2 linked regions of the Homo sapiens genome follow. The protein of the gene in region 2 interacts with the protein of the main gene of each other region in a pairwise test. Each region holds a gene or a part of one and is shown on either strand. Other genes may lie near its edges.

Region 1 (7,741 bases), on a different chromosome or scaffold from region 2:
TACTGACATGTTTATCACCCTGTGAAATACATTGAGTGTCAGGAAAAGATGCCCCATTTATCGAAAACTAGCTTTGATAAATGTAGGATTATTTTATAGTTCAGTTTTCTTAAGTGATAAGAAAGAGAGGCTCACTTGTGAGACAGTGTAGCATGGAAGCCAGGAATGCGAATGTTCTGCAGTGCACAAGGAAACTCCACTGAGAAAAGGCCCCACATGTTAATGGTGCTGAGACTGAGAAACCCTAATCTAATACACAGAATAAAGAGTTGAGAATAAAATTTTCTTTGTATTTCACAACCATCTGTGATTCTCAAATTACATATAGTAAAGAACAATGTTTTTGTTTTAATTTCCAATCCCTTATGGACCTATAACTTTTGTAAAATACACTGAAAATTTCATGGCAATATCAAATTGCTGTATACCGAACATTCAATTTCTCTACTTCTTGCTTCATTTTTATGCACTTGTAAACAAACAAAGAAAAAATTTCTGTACTACTTGTGTATGGGTAACAAATAATTTGTAGATTAGCACCAATCTGTGGACATTTTGAATAGCAAAAAAAATAGAGCATTTGTCTCTGAATATTCTGTAATAAACATGATTTTTGAAATTAGGGAAAAGTTTAAAAACATTCATTTAGTATTTATGACACTTTGGCCAATAGGCAATTGACTGGTGAAAAACAAATGCAAAATTTGTTAAAACTTATAAAATTAAAATATTTGGTTTTTGGTTTTGTTTTTACGTCAGAATACCTAGAGAACATGTGTAGATAGGACAAAGTTGATAAGTCATTTGCTAGCATTTGCCTACTCACCATATCATACCCCAGGGCAGGTGGCTTCTTATGGAAGTACATCTTCCTATGGATCCCAGATACTGCCTCAGAATCCTCCTTAACATAGTACTTAAAGAAGTCACTATCACTTTAAGGCAGTTGGTGTCAGGTATGAAACTTATCATCCTAAACTATGTTCTGAGGGTCTTTTGAATATAATACTATGATTAGCTTAACCTTACATTCTTTTAATTTTTTTTAAACAATTCTGATTTATCAAAGTAATTAAAAATCTCAAACCAAAACTTTTCATGTGCTGGTTACTTGTCCCAAGTGTACTATTCAAAATCTTAATTATGGTAAAAGAAATTTATGTCTTCCTTTTATTGCCATACTGTCTGTGTCAAGAATATGTCTTGGGCCAGGTGCGGTGGCTCACGCCTGTAATCCCCAGCACTTTGGGAGGCTGAGGCGGGTGGATCACCTGAGGTCGAGAGTTCGAGACCAGCCTGGTCGACATGGTGAAACCCTGTCTCTACTTAAAAAATGCAAAATTAGCCAGGAGTGGTGGTGCACCCCTGTAATCCTAGCTACTTGGGAGGCTGAGGTGGGAGAATTGCTTGAACCTGGGAGGTGGAGGCTGTAGTGAGCCGAGGTCACGCCACTGCACTCCAGCTTGGGAAACAGAGCAAGACCCCTCTCTCAAAAAAAAAAAAAAAAAAAAAAAAAAAGAATGTATCTTAAACTGAAGCGAGACCCCCCCCATCTCAAAAAAAAAAAATGTACCTTAACAGCACAGAATGTAATTTACTGTTTTTACTTATAGTAAAAACAACCATTGGTTTAGGGAAGAAAGAAAATCAGGTGACTATAAAGGTATACCTAGGTCATGTTTGTTGAAAGTAAAGTCTTTGAAGAACTATGACCTGGTTTTTTTTATATATAATCAAACTTTTGTTTTTTGTCAGAAACCCTAATGATGAAAAATATAGATCCATCCGGATTGGAAACACAGCCTTTTCTACTAGACTCTTGCCTGTCAGAGGAGCTGTTGAATGTTTATTTGAAATGGGCTTTGAAGAGGTAAGTATGTTCAAGGATTTCCTCTCCCCTCTTCATGCACAAAGCAGCCATTATCATGTTGGTGAATAATTGTTTGAATAAGATAATGTTTTTTAATTTATCATTTTGGGAATCAGTAGAAGTAGTTATTTCTTCATTGATTGGACATTTAAAAATCACAACAAGTATAGTTTAAAATTTCAGTAAAATGTAACAACGCTCCACAGAGAAATTCTTACGAGTCTCAGTTCTTTAAAATAAGGGTCATACATGCAACCCAAGGACCAAATGTGGTTCACTTTAGGCTTTTAGCTAAAACCTGATTTGTGAGCACACATGAATACTAATAGAGTCTAGCTACCTGTCTGTAGTAGGAAATGAAAAGAGTCTGAAGTAAACAGAAAAACTGAGTTGAGCTGCCACACAGAAGGGGTTTCTTCTGTGACAGGAGAGGAGTCTCAGTATTTTTTTTTGTTTTTACTTCAAATGAATATTTTGGTGTTATCTTTTGGAATCTTGTGGTGTAGTTTAATTTTATGACACATCGAAAGTAGTTATTAAGATTCTGAATTTTCTTTATGTTTATATCCTTAACTAGTTCTCCTTTGTAGAGCATTGAAAGAACTTGAACAAGTTACAGAGACTCAATAGTCAGTGGTCGTCAGAATAGGCAATTGTAGAAGTTGTTAAAGAGATATGCTGAGCTGCTATGTAAGATTCACTTTTCTTCATGCCTCTCTGCTTCCCTCCCCAGGTTCCATTTCAGGCCCTGAAGTAACAGTAGTGAACAAAGTAGTAGATATAATCCCACCTCACATAGAGCTTACATTCTAGTAGGTTAAACAGCCAGTAGATGTGAAAACAAGATGAGTGCAAAGAAGAAAATAAGACCAGGTAATAGAATAAAAAGTACTTTGCATGGCAGGCAGTGGTCAGGGAAGTCCTCTCTGAGGAGATGACATTTGAGCTGTGACTTGAAACATCTCAGGTACCTGAAACTCTCAGGTAAGAGTGTTTCAGGCAGAAGGATTAATGTGTGTAAAGGATTTCCAGCAGAAGTAACCGTGAAACAGAAATAAGCTGCATAGGGAGGCAGAGACCAGGACACATGGGGTCTTGAGGAATGTGGCAAAAGACTTAGACTTTATTTTAAGTGAGATGAGAAGCCACTGGGAATTTTTTTTTTTTTTTTTTTTTTTGAGATGGAGTTTCGCTCTTGTTGCCCAGGCTGGAGTGCGGTGATGCAATCTCAGCTTACCACAACCTTCGCCTCCTGGATTCAAGCGATTCTCCTGCCTCAGCCTCCTGAGTAGCTGGGATTAAAGGCATACGACAGCACGCCTGGCTAATTTTGTATTTTTAGTAGAGATGGGATTTCTCCATGTTGGTCAGGTTGGTCTCGAACTCTTGACCTCAGGCGATCCGCCCGCCTTGGCCTCCCAAAGTATTGGGATTACAGGCGTGAGCCGCCGTGCCCAGCCTGGAAAGTTTTAAGTAGGGAAAAATATTTTTGAAGATTATTCTAGCTTGCTGTAAAGAGAATTCCTGGAGGTGGTGGGATGGGGACAAGGGATGAAGCAGGGAGACCGGTTAGAAAGCTTATTACATTAGTCTAAATAAGAAATGGTAGTGGTTTGTATAAAGTCCATGAAGGCAGGGTTTTTTGTCATTTCTGTTCCCTGTGTTGCTAGCTCCTGGAATAATGCTGGTGCATTACAGATGTTAGGTACTCAATAAAGATTTGTTGAATTAAGTACTGATGGTGGAGATGGAGAGAAGTAGATGGATCCAGGATTTCTTTTTGTGACAGAATCAACAGGACTTACTGGTGATTTAGATGTAAGATATAAGGGAAAGGAAGGAATCGGGGACTTACCTATGTTTTGGTTTAAGCAACTAATTGGATGGGAGTATCATTAATTGAGATAGAGAAGCCTTGGAGAGTAGCAGGTTTTAGGGGAGAAACTAACACCTGTCTTTGGACAATTGTGACCAATTTGCTGTTAAATATTCAAGTAGAGAAGCCAAGTAAGCAGTTGGCTATATGAGTTTACAACCCCAAAGGAGAGATTAGGCAGGGGATATAAATTATGGTGTCATCTGATTATAGATGATACAAAGGTATCCGAACATAAAGAATTTAAAATTCCTTGTTCAAGGAAATGCCAATTTTCAAGATTCAAATTGGTTGGGAAAATTGAGTAAATGACAACGGAAGACTCTACCCATTTCTCATGTCGAAGTGTCACATATTCGATAGAATTAGATTTGTCTTTCATTCAGCAAATATTTGAGTGCCAAGTAGGGTAGCCAGCCATTCCAGTTTGCTCAGTACTGTCCTGGTTTTAGCAATGAAAGTCCCACATCCCAGAAAACCCCTCGGTCTCAGGCAAACCAGTGTTGGTCACTGCAGTGCCAAATAACAGGCCACACTGAGACTTGCAGAAGTATTTGATGCAAATGGAGTCACAGTCTCAGAAAAGATTAACAGGTTTTGATATGACTAATTTATACTTAAAGTTTCTGTTCGGCTTTAGACATCACACCTCAGGACTTGAACTCTACCACCAAAAAGAAAGTTGGTGGACTTTTTAAAGAATAATTATATGAATACATAATAGTTGTACATTATGGGGTACAGGTGATATTTTGATGCTAGCATACAAATGTGTAATGAACATATCTGAGTAATTGGAACATCCATGATCTCAAACATTTATCATCTCTTTGTGTTAGAAACATTCAAAATTCTGTCTTCTAGCTATTTTGAAATATACAATGAATTGTTTTTAACCGTAGTCACCGTATTGTGCTATAGAACATGAGAAATTATTCCTCCTATTTAACTGTAATTTTGTGCCCATTAACCAATCTCTTTCTATTGCCCAGTCCCTTCTATCCCTCCAAGCCTTTGGTAACTGCCATTCCACTCTTCTTTATTTTTTTAAATTTTTATTTAATTTTGTAATATCTTTTTACAATCACTCTTTTCTTCTATGGGATCAATTGTTTTAGCTCCCACATATGAGTGAGAACATGTGTTATTTGTCTTTCTGAATTCTGGCTTATTTTACTTAACATAATGTCCCTCCATTTCCATCCATGATGATGCAAATGACAGGATTTTGTTCTTTTTTATGGTGGAATAATATTCCGTTGTGTATAGATACCACATATTCTTTATCCATTCATCTATTGATGGACAATTAGGTTAATTCCATATCTTGGCCATTGTGAATAGTGCTGCAGTAAACATAGGAATGCAGATACCTCTTCAATATGCTGATTTTGGAAAATGGTGGATAGGAGACAGGACTAACTTGCAGCTCCCAATTGGACTGACAGAACAGTGCCTGGAAACTCACATCGTGAACTTTTGCTCTGAGAAATACTAGAGGAACATACCAGGAAAACCAAAAGAATTCACAGACCCTTTGAAAAAAGCAGCTTGCTGCTGCAAATTCCATGAGACAGAGGAAAACCTGTGAGTGCCCGAAGTGTGACGGGGAAAGTCCACTGGGGAACCTGAAAATCCAGATCACGGGAGAAGGGTTTAACCTTACCTAGAGCTGAAATTAATTTAGAGAGCTGAGTGAAATATAAAAGTAGAACAAGCAGCGAGAAGAGCCTGCAGGCACTCCTGGCCACCAAGGAAGCCATTTCTGACTTTATCTCACAGGGGTCCTTGGGGAGGGCTGCCAGTGGAATTGGGGAAAGACCACAGGGAGAATGAAACTTGCAGCTGAACACGAATTTTCCTGGACTGGGGTGTGTAGGGGAGGTGGCAAATGGGAAATGCAGATACTGCAGATACAAGCACAGAAGCCAAGGCAGACGGAGAGGGGTGAAGCCTGAAAACCCTGATTGCTTTCTCAGTGGGGAGACTTGTAGCCTGGGGCAAAATCTCAACCCTGCGTACACTGCCTGGATATAAACATGGTGCTATTGGTGGAGCATGGTGGGAGTGAGACTGGCCCTTCTGGCTGTGTGGGAGCTGGGTATGGCCTGTTATTGCTGGCTTTCCCCCACTTCCCTGGTGACCTGTATGATGCAGCAGAGATAGCTGTAATCCCCCTGGAAACATAACTCCATTGGCCTGAGAACCACACCCCCATCCGCCACAGTGGCCACAACAAGCCCAACCCAAAGAGAGTCTGCTCTCAGACATGCCTAACCCTGCCTTCACCTGATGGTCTTTCTGAGAGAAAAGACATAATCTCTTGGGAACTCTATGGCCCTGCCCACTGCCTGAGAAACCCAAATACTTATGCAGGCAACCCTAGGGCAAGCTTACATCTTCTTGATACTACTGCAGCTGATGCTGTCTTGAAAGCATCACCTTCTGGCTGGGGGCCAACCAACTGAAACCATTACAGCAACTCATTAAAGAACAACTCTGCCCCAAGAAAAGAGAATACAACAGCTAATTCCACCACCTGTAACATCCTGGCTAACCAGAGGTCTTGAGTCCAATCGCATGACAGCTTTACTACCAGCACACCTGGAATTCGAGAAAACCAACACACTAAACAAAACTGCAACCAAGGTCCCACACAGAGTCCACTTCACTCCCCTGCCACCTCCATCAGAGTAGGTACTGGTATCTATGGCTGAGACTTGAAGACAGATCACATCACAGGACTCTTTGCAGACACTCTCTAATACCAGTTCAGAGCCCAGTAGCTCTACTGGTTTGCTAGACCCAGAAGAGCAATAACAATCACTGCAGTCCAGCTCTCAGGAAGCCCCATTCCTAGAGGAAGGGAAGAGCACCACATCAAGGGAGCACCCCATGGGGCCAAAGAATCTGAACAGCAGCCCTTGAGCCCCTGATCCTTCCTCTGACATAGTCTATACCTAAATGAGGAGGAACCAGAAAAACAATTCTGGTAATATGACAAAACAGGGTTCTTTAACATCCCCAAAAGATCACACTAGCATAGTAGCAATGGATCCAAACCAAGAAGAAATCTCTGAATTGCCAGAAAAAGAATTCAGAAGGTCAATTATTAGGTTACTTAAGGAGACACCAGAGAACTTAAAGAAATTTAAAGAGTGATACAGGATATGGATGAAAAAAAATCTCCAGAGAAATAAATAGTATAAATAAAAAACAATTACAACTTCTGGAAGTGAAGAACACACCTAGGGAAATGCAGAATGCATCGGAAAGTTTCAACAATGGAATTGAACAAGTAGAAGAGAACTTCAGAGCTCAAAGATGAGGCTTTCGTATTAACCCAATCCAACAAAGACAAAAAAGAATTTTAAAAATGATCAAAGCCCCAAGGAAGTTTGGGATTATGTTAAATGACCAAACCCAAGAATAATTAGTGTTCCAGAGGAAGAAAATACATCTAAAAGTTTGGAAGACATATTTGAGGGAATAATTGAGGAAAACTTCTCTGGCCTTCCTAGAGATCTACATATCCAAATATAAGAAGCTCAAAGAACACCTGGGAAATTCATCTCAAAAAGATCATCACCTAGGCACATAGTCCTCAGGTTATCTAAAGTCAAGACAAAGGAAATAATCTTACAAGCTCTTAGGCAAAAGCATCAGATAACCTAAAAAGGAACACCTATCAGATTAACAGCAGATTTCTCAGTAGAAGCCCTACAAGCTAGAAGGGATTGGGGTCCTATCTTTAGCCTCTTTAAACAAAATAATTATCAGCTAAGAATTTTGCATCCAGCAAAACTAAGCTTCATAAATGAAGGAAAGATAGTCTTTCAGACAAACAAATGCCAAGAGAATTTGCCACTACCAAGCTAGCACTACAAGAACTGCTAAAAAGGAGCTCTAAATATTGAAATAAAACCTCGAAATACACCAAATTATAACCTCCTTAAAGCATAAATCTCACAGAACCTATAAAACAATAAATAATG
Region 2 (8,242 bases):
GCATTCAATCTAGGATCACACACTGCATTTGGCTATTACTTGTAGTTAATCTCCTTTGATTTGGGAGAGTTCTTCAGTCTTTCCTTCTCTTTCATGACCTTGTTAAGCATACTGGCTTTTTTTTTTTTTTTTTTTTTAAACAGAGTCTCACTCTGCTGTCTAGGCTGGAGTGCAGTGGTGCGATCTCGGCTCACTGCGATCTCGGCTCACTGCAACCTCGACCTCAGCCTCCTGAGTAGCTGGGACCACAGGTGTGCACCACCATGCCCAGCTAATTTTTGTATTTTCAGTAGAGATGGAGTTTCACCATGTTGACCAGGCTGGTCTCAAACTCCTGACCTCATATGATCCACCAGCCAGCCTCAGCCTCCCAAAGTGCTGGGATTACAGGCATGAGTCACCGTGCCCAGCCAGCTAGTTATTTTATATAATATCCTTCAATTTGGGTTTGTCTGATATTTTCTCATGATTAAATTCAGGTTATATATTTTTGGCAAGAACACCATAGAAATCATGTTGTGCTCATCTCAGTGCCTTATATCAGAAGGTACATGATGTCAACAGTCTTATTTTACTATTGATGTAAACCATGATCACATAGTTGATATGGTGTCTGCCAAATTTCTTCACTATAAAGTTTCTCCTGCTTTTTAAACAAGATGTCAATGCAGAAAGCAAAGCACTGGCAACTTTACTACCATTGTTTAGTTTAGATTATTCCTTTCCATGATACAAAAATGGTCTTAAATCCTGCCCCCAGTAGGGTTCTTTAAAGGTTTTGGCATTATCAAGCGAGTTGCCACTTTTCAAAACATGTATTTAGTCATTTGTTCAACATGCTTAATTAAGACAATACTTTGAGGCTGGGTCCAGTGGCTCATGCCTGTAATCCCAGCACTTTGGGAGGCTGAGGTGGGCGGATCACTTGAGGTCAGGAGTTCAAGACCAGCCTGGCCAGCATGGCGAAACACCTCTCTACTAAAAATAAAAAAATTAGCCGGGTGCCTGTAGTCCCAGCTACTAGGGAGGCTGAAGCAGAATTGCTTGAACCCGGGAGGTGGAGGTTGCAGTAAGCCAGGATCACACCACTGCACCCCAGCCTGGGCAACAGAGTGAGCCTCTGTCTCAAAAAATAAAAATAAAAAAAAAAAGGACAATACTGTGGGCCAGGTGCAGTGTCTCACACCTGTAATCCCAGCACTCTGGAAGGCTGGGGTGGGTGGATCACTTGAGCTCAGGAGTTCAAGGCCAGCCAGGAAACATAGTAAGACCCTGCCTTTATAAAAAATAAGCAGCCGGGTGCGGTGGTTCATGCCTGTAATCCCAGCACTTTGGGAGGCCGAGACAGGTGGATCACAAGGTCAGGAGATCGAGACCATCCTGCCTAACATGGTGAAACCCAGTCTCTACTAAAAAGAGCTTGCAGTGAGCCGAGATCACGCCACTGCACTCCAGCCTGGGCGACAGAGCGAGACTCCCTCTCAAAAAAAACAAAAAACAAAAAAGCAAAAAATTAGGTGGGTATGGTGGCACATGCCTGTAATCTCAGCTACTTGGGAGGCTGGGGTGGGAGGCTGAGGTAGTCCCAGCTACTTGGGAGGCTTGAGCCCAGGAGGTCGAGGCTACAGTGAGTGAGTTGTGATCACACCACTGCACTCCAGCCGGGGTGACAGAGTGAGACCCTGTCTCAAAGAAAAAGAAGACCATACTGTGTGCCACTGTGCCCTGGCACTAAAAATACTTTACAAAATAAGGAAATATAGTCTCTGATAAAGCGATTTAGTGGTAGAGAAAAACAATAAGCAAAAAAATACATATAACTTGAGTATTGTGATGGAAAAGTATACTGACAAATAAATGGGGGCGGAATAGAGGCAAATCTACTTTAGGTAGATAAGAGTGGTCAGGGAAGAACTTTCTGGGGAGACGACATTTAAATTAAGAACTGAAGTACAAGAGCCAACCACGAAAAGACAAAGATAGAGGATGGGAATGCGGGGAAATCCATCCAGGCAGTGGGAAGGGCAAAAGGCCTAAAAGCAATGAAAGAGAAAGTAAAGGCAGATCTGGAAGAGCATAATAAAAAAGGGGAATGACTCAAGAAGGTCTTGTCATATCAGACAGAAAGAATATTGGATTCGATTCCAAGCTCAATGGTAAACCACTGAAGGGCTTTAAACTAGGGAATGACATAATTCAAGACACCCATTCTGGGCTGGGCGCAGCAGCTCACGCCTGTAATCCCAGCACTTTGGGAGGGCGAGGTGGGCAGATCACTGGAGGTCTGGGGTTCGAGACCAGCCTGGCCAACATGGCAAAACCAAGTCTCTACTAAAAATACAAAAATTAGTTGGGCGTGGTGACGGGCGCTTGTATCCCAGCTACTCAGGAGGCTGAGGCAAGAGAATCACTTAAACCCAGGAGGCGGAGGCTGCAGTGAGCTGAGATCTCGCCACTGCACTCCAACCTGAACAACAGAAGGTGACTCCATCTCAAAAAAAAAAAAAGATATTCACTCTGATATGAAATGGCAACTAAGGAAGGCTGTCCGACTGATTTCAGGTGTGCTCTATTCCAGCCCACTCTGGCCAACTCTAAGGCCAGAGCTCAGATGTAGCAGGTGCTTGCTTTTCTAGATGCAAGGAGACTGGGGGTAGCCTGCAGGGTCCCCCTCTGGGGGTCAAGGTCTGGCTGGTTCTGCCAGATTTAACCTCTCTGGGCCTCAGATTCTTCAGGCAGAGGACTGACAATACTTCAAAGGGTCAAGGAAACGGGCGAATGCACGGAAGAGTTGAGGCACAGAAAAGTCTTCAAGCTTATAAGGAGCCTGTTGGGGGTCAGCTAGATCTCTCTAGTCCGCAGAGGGGACCGTCCCTCTGCCCGAGGCGGCGGAGCTTCCCCTGCCGGGTCCAGATACCCCAAGGCAGTTTCCAATCGCCCCCGTCCCCAGGAAGGTCGGTGATGGGGAGTGAAGAAGTAAGCGGCTTCTCAAATAATAGCAGTTGCCAAACGCTTACCGGGAAAATCTTTTAATCCCGACTACAATCCTAAGAGGTGAAAGTCTTGGTCCCCACTTTAGAGGCTACGAAAGCGGAAGGCCACCTGAGTTTTCCACAGCACCAGCGGGTCGGAGTGCGAGCTCGGACTCGGGTCCTTCGGCTTCGAGGCCGCATTAGGCCACTCGCGACCCCCCACGCCGGCAGCTCGAGGCTCGGACTCTAGGCCCAGGCCGGCACTGAGCCCAGCTCCGCCCGGGACGCGGTGGTCACAGCGGCGCTGCGAACGACGCCCGCTTCCCGGCTCACCAGACCAACCTAGGCCGCGAAGGGGGCGGCGTCGCCGGGGGCTGCCAAGGCGCCGGTTCCCTGAGGAGAAAGCGCGGCCTCCTCCAGGTGCCTGAGATGCCGCCGCGCGGGCATCCTCTCCTCACAGCCGCGACCCCGGGCCCAGAGACCCCTCGCCCACACACCCCTCCCTTGGGATGCTGGACCCTTCCTAAACTGGAGGCCACAGGGGATCTCCAGCCGCGTGCCGCCGCTACACCTCACCAGGGACGAGAGGAGAAACGCTGAGTTGACACACTAGCTGCAGACACGGAGCCTCCTCTGTCAGACCCCGCACTGAACAACGGCCCTCAGAGCTGCCTCACCACTTCCGCCCATCGCGGAGGAGCGCGCCCATTGGCCAGGGGCGGCTCCAGCTGTCGGCCCATTGGATAACACCGTTGTCGCTCCCAGGGCCCCGCCTTCTGCGCGTCGATTGGCTCCCTGGAGGCCCACGGGGGCGTGTCCCTGGAAGCCCTGGCCCCTGCACATCTGGAACCAGAGGCACGAAGCTGAGCTGTGAGCCTGTTGCTGAGTTTAGCAACTGTCCCCGACACAGGCTAATAATATTTGCATGAATAATTCTGTACAAACATTACTAATATGCTTAATATATTGAGATAATTAATGGTATTTGTTCTTTTCTCATGGGCCGTTAATACTTATTAGTCATTCTTATTGCTATGATAATGCCCTTGTGCAAGACTTCTGCAGATCTGTGACCATATTTTTTGAGCACTTTGCTTTTTTGCAGTGGAAGAATGAGAGCCTGAGATGCAGGTTTGAGAGCTAGTTTCTCCACTTGCTGCCTGAATGGATTCCCTGAGCTTCTCTTACCTCATGTATAATAAAGGAGAGAATAATTATATAAGTATAACCAAGCACATATTACAAACCAACTTATAATTATATAAGTATAACCAAGCACATATTACAAACAATACAGCAATTTAAAATTATGATTCCATTGCAGATTATAATTGCAAAATATGGAGGCCAAGGCGGGTGGATCTCTTGAGCTCAGGAATTAGAGACCAGCCTGGGCAATATAATGAAACCATATCTCTACAAAAAAAATACAAAAATTAGCCAGGCGTGGTGGCACGCACCTGTAGTTCCACCTCCTTGGGAGGCTGAGGTGGAAGGATCCCTCGAGCCCAGGAGGCAGGGCTGGAGTGAGCCCTGATCATGCTACCGCACTCCAGCCTGGGGGACAGAGAAAGACCCCGTCTCAAAAATAATATAATATAATATAATATAATATAATATAATATAATATAATATAATTGCAAAATGTTAATGAGATAGTACTAAGCAAGAAAAGCATCTAACAGGCTGGGCGCGGTGGCTCACGCCTGTAATGCCAACACTTTGGGAGGCAGAGGCTGGTGGATCACCTGAGGTCAGGAGTTCAAGACCAGCCTGGCCAACATGGTGAAACACCGTTTCTACTAAAAATACAAAAATTAGCTGGCCGTGGTGGCAGGCGCCTATGATCCCAGCTACTTGGGAGGCTGAGACAGGAGAATCGCTTGAACCCAGGAGGTGAAGGTTGCAGTGAGCCGAGATTGAGCCACTGCACTCCAGCCTGGGCAACAAAATCAAAACTCCGTCTCAAAGCAATATTTATAACAAGATAAAATATTTAGCTTAAATATGCAATATAACTTGTGTGATTCCAAACATATAAAGTTTAAAACCAGGGAAAATTAACCTAAAGTGAGAGAAGTAAGTAACTGGTTCCATTCAGAGGGTATATAGCCTGTAAGGAGATATGAGAAAGATTTTCTAGAAATGTTTATATCTTGATCAGCAAAGTGATTAACACAGATGGATTAATTAGTAAATAGTTATTAAGCTACACACCTATATCTTAAGCACTTTACATTGTATGTTACATTTTAATAACAAAACTTACTGGAGTTCAAAAGAAAGCACAATCATTAACAGTTAAAAAGCAATCAGAAAAAATGTGTATTAATATGAATTAAGTATATTAATGTATTAAGTATATATAAAGAAAAAAGATAACCATATAGTGTGTTCTTTTATGAATAAGGTGTTTTAACTCAGCATAATGTTTTTGAGGTTTATCCATGCTGTTGATAATATCAAGTCTATTCCTTTTCAGTGCCAAGTAGCATAGCACATGGATATGCCACAATTTATACTGACAAACATTAGAGCTGGTTCTAGTTTTTGGCCAGGCATGGTGGCTCACGCCCACAATCCCAGCACTTCGGCAGGTCAAGGTGGGTGGATCGCCTGAGCTCAGGAGTTCCAGACCAGCCTGGGCAACATAACAAAACCCTGTCTCTACAAAAAATACAAAAATGTAGCCAGGCGTGGTGGCTCATGCGTGTAGTCCCAGCTACTTGGGAGGCTAAGGTGAGAAGATTGCTTGAGCCTGGGAGGCAGAGGTTTCAGCGAGCTGATATGGCACCACTGCACTCCAGCCTGGGTGACAGAGCAAGACTCCATCTCAAAAAAAAAAATTGATTCTAGTTTAAGCAGTAGTAACCATTCTTGTGCAAGTCTTTGGGGATATATGTTTTTATTTCTCTCAGATAAACACTTGGAAGTGGGATTGCTGGATCATACGGTAAGTCTATGTTTTAACTTTACAAGAAACTACCAAACTGTTTTCCGAAGTGATTGCACAACTAAACGTTCCCAACAGTAGTGTAGGAGAGTTTCAGTTGCTCCGTATAGTCATCCACTTGGTATAAACACATTTTGAATAAATAAACAGGAGAATGGCAGTCCTGTCTTCCGTTGCCTGAGTGACCCAGAAGCTCCTCTAAATTCATAGTTCACAGTGGGAGGAGACAACAAGGTCCAGGGTAGCAAGGAATGAACTGAAATAATGATAAGCTCAAATTTCACTTAACCCCTGGGGTGCCTTATTTTCACTGGCCTAAATCCAACAGCAGAAATAAAAAAAGTTTAGGGATATTTTATTCCTGACCAAAAAAGGCAGGCAAGGCGGGGTGATTACAGTGGCAGCAGAAAGGATTTAGATTAGGTTAGAGGAAGAGCTGCTTCTTGGTTTACCAGGAGTCACCTGTATGAGAGGATTAGATGGAGTTCCCCCCAACCTCCTTGTACCAGAATCTTTAAAGGGTTTGTTAGAAACTTATTTTTATTTATTTATTTACTTATTTTTTATTTTTCTGAGACAAAGTCTCACTCTCTCGCCCAGGCTGGAGTGCAGTGGCGCGATCTCGGCTCACTGCAACCTCCGCCTGCCGGGTTCAAGCGATTCTCCTGCCTCAGGCTCCCGAGTAGCTGGGACTGTAGGTGCCCACCACCATGCCTGGCTATTTTTTTGTATTTTTAGTAGAGACAGGGTTTCGCCATGTTGGTAAGGCTGGTCTTGAACTCCTGACCTCAAATGATCCTCCCACCTTGGCCTCCCAAAGTGTTAGGATTACAGGCGTGAGCCGCTGCGCCCAGCCGGCTTGTTAGAAATTTGAATGTCTGCTCAAGGTCAACCTCCTCACTATCCCAATTCCCTAGTACCTCAACCTCATCCCTAAAAACTCACTAAATTAACTGAATCTGGATTTCTGGTGTCATGGCCTAAATGGCACTTCTGGGCTCTGGCAGATTTAGCATTCACTGCAGTGGAATTTTGATAAAGCCCAAAGGGAGAGGTGTTGCCCTACCCTTCCCAGCTCAGCCCTACTCAGAGCCCTGCCAGGCTGGGGGAGGGAAATTCCTCTCCTCTAGCCAAAGCTGTCACTACCCAGTCTGAGAAGCCAACATGACTCCTCCATTCCCCAACACGCCCCCATCCCTGTTCTGAACTGTCTTCTACCTCCCGCAGCCTCAGCCCCGCTCAAGGGCTAGGGATCTTCCCTGACAGAATGCAGCTTTTCCTTGTGGTTCTAGTTGCCAACGTGTTCCCTTCCTCCCACTTTTACATCCCAGCAAGCAGCTGCTTAGAGTCACAGATTCCTGGCCCCATGCCTAGCCCGGACACATGGAAGGCACTCAATTTCTACTTGCAGAATTACCTCAAGGTGCTGCTTTACAATAAACTCTTTTTTTTTTTTTTTTTTGAAACAGAATCTTGGCTGGGCGTGGTGGCTCATGCCTGTAATCCCAGCACTTTGGGAAGCTGAGGCTGGTGGATCACCTGAGGTCGGGAGTTCGAGACCAGCCTGACCAACATGGAGAAACCCCAGCTCTACTAAAAATACAAAATAAGCCGGGTGTGGTGGTGCATGCCTGTAATCCCAGCTACTTGGGATGCTGAGGAGGGAGAATCACTTAAACCCGGGAGGCGGTGGTTGCGGTGAGCCGAGATCAAGCCATTGTACTCCAGCCTAGGCAACAAGAGTGAAACTCCATCTCAAAAAAAAAAAGAAGGAAAAAAAGAAACAGAATCTCGCTCTGTCACCCAACCTGGAGTGCAGTGGTATGATCTCGGCTCACTGCAACCTCCACCTCCTGGGTTCAAGCAATTTTCCCGCCTCAGCCTCCCAAGTAGCTGGGATTACAGGCATGTACCACCATGCCCGGCTAATTTTTGTATTTTTAGTACAGATGGGGTTTCACTATGTTGGTCAGGCTGGTCTCGAACTCCTGATCTCAGGTGTTCCACCTCAGCCTCCCAAAGTGCTGGGATTACAGGTGTGAGCCATCTTGCCCAGCCTACAGTAAACATTTAAAGGTGGATTATTTTTTTGTTTTTGGCCAAAACCAAATCTGTTTTCATCAAACTGGGTTTTCATGAAACTGGGTTCCTTTCTACCCTGTAGCATTCCATCCTTTGCACTTCTCTCAGCCCTTCGCCAGCTCCCTCTGTCTTTTGAGGCCCCTTCCTGTTCATCTTCCTGGTACTTTTTTGGGTGCACCAAGAGGCGACTCTGGCAGTAAGTCCCTTGCTCCCTGGCATCCCAACAAGCACCCGA

What was found.
Region 1: the proteins of TRAFD1 (region 2) and NGLY1 interact in binary tests that used the Homo sapiens proteins (3 or more experiments, as listed by UniProt).

What each region holds. Positions count from the first base shown.
Region 1 is NC_000003.12:25,772,703-25,780,443, reverse strand, and holds part of NGLY1 (peptide-N(4)-(N-acetyl-beta-glucosaminyl)asparagine amidase), read left to right. Parts: intron 1-1,755; coding exon 1,756-1,870; intron 1,871-7,741. UniProt on the Homo sapiens protein: Specifically deglycosylates the denatured form of N-linked glycoproteins in the cytoplasm and assists their proteasome-mediated degradation. Cleaves the beta-aspartyl-glucosamine (GlcNAc) of the glycan and the amide side chain of Asn, converting Asn to Asp.
Region 2 is NC_000012.12:112,120,925-112,129,166, reverse strand, and holds the start of TRAFD1 (TRAF-type zinc finger domain-containing protein 1), read right to left. Parts: upstream 3,608-8,242; 5' UTR 3,549-3,607; exon of another isoform or gene 3,018-3,548; intron 1-3,017. UniProt on the Homo sapiens protein: Negative feedback regulator that controls excessive innate immune responses. Regulates both Toll-like receptor 4 (TLR4) and DDX58/RIG1-like helicases (RLH) pathways.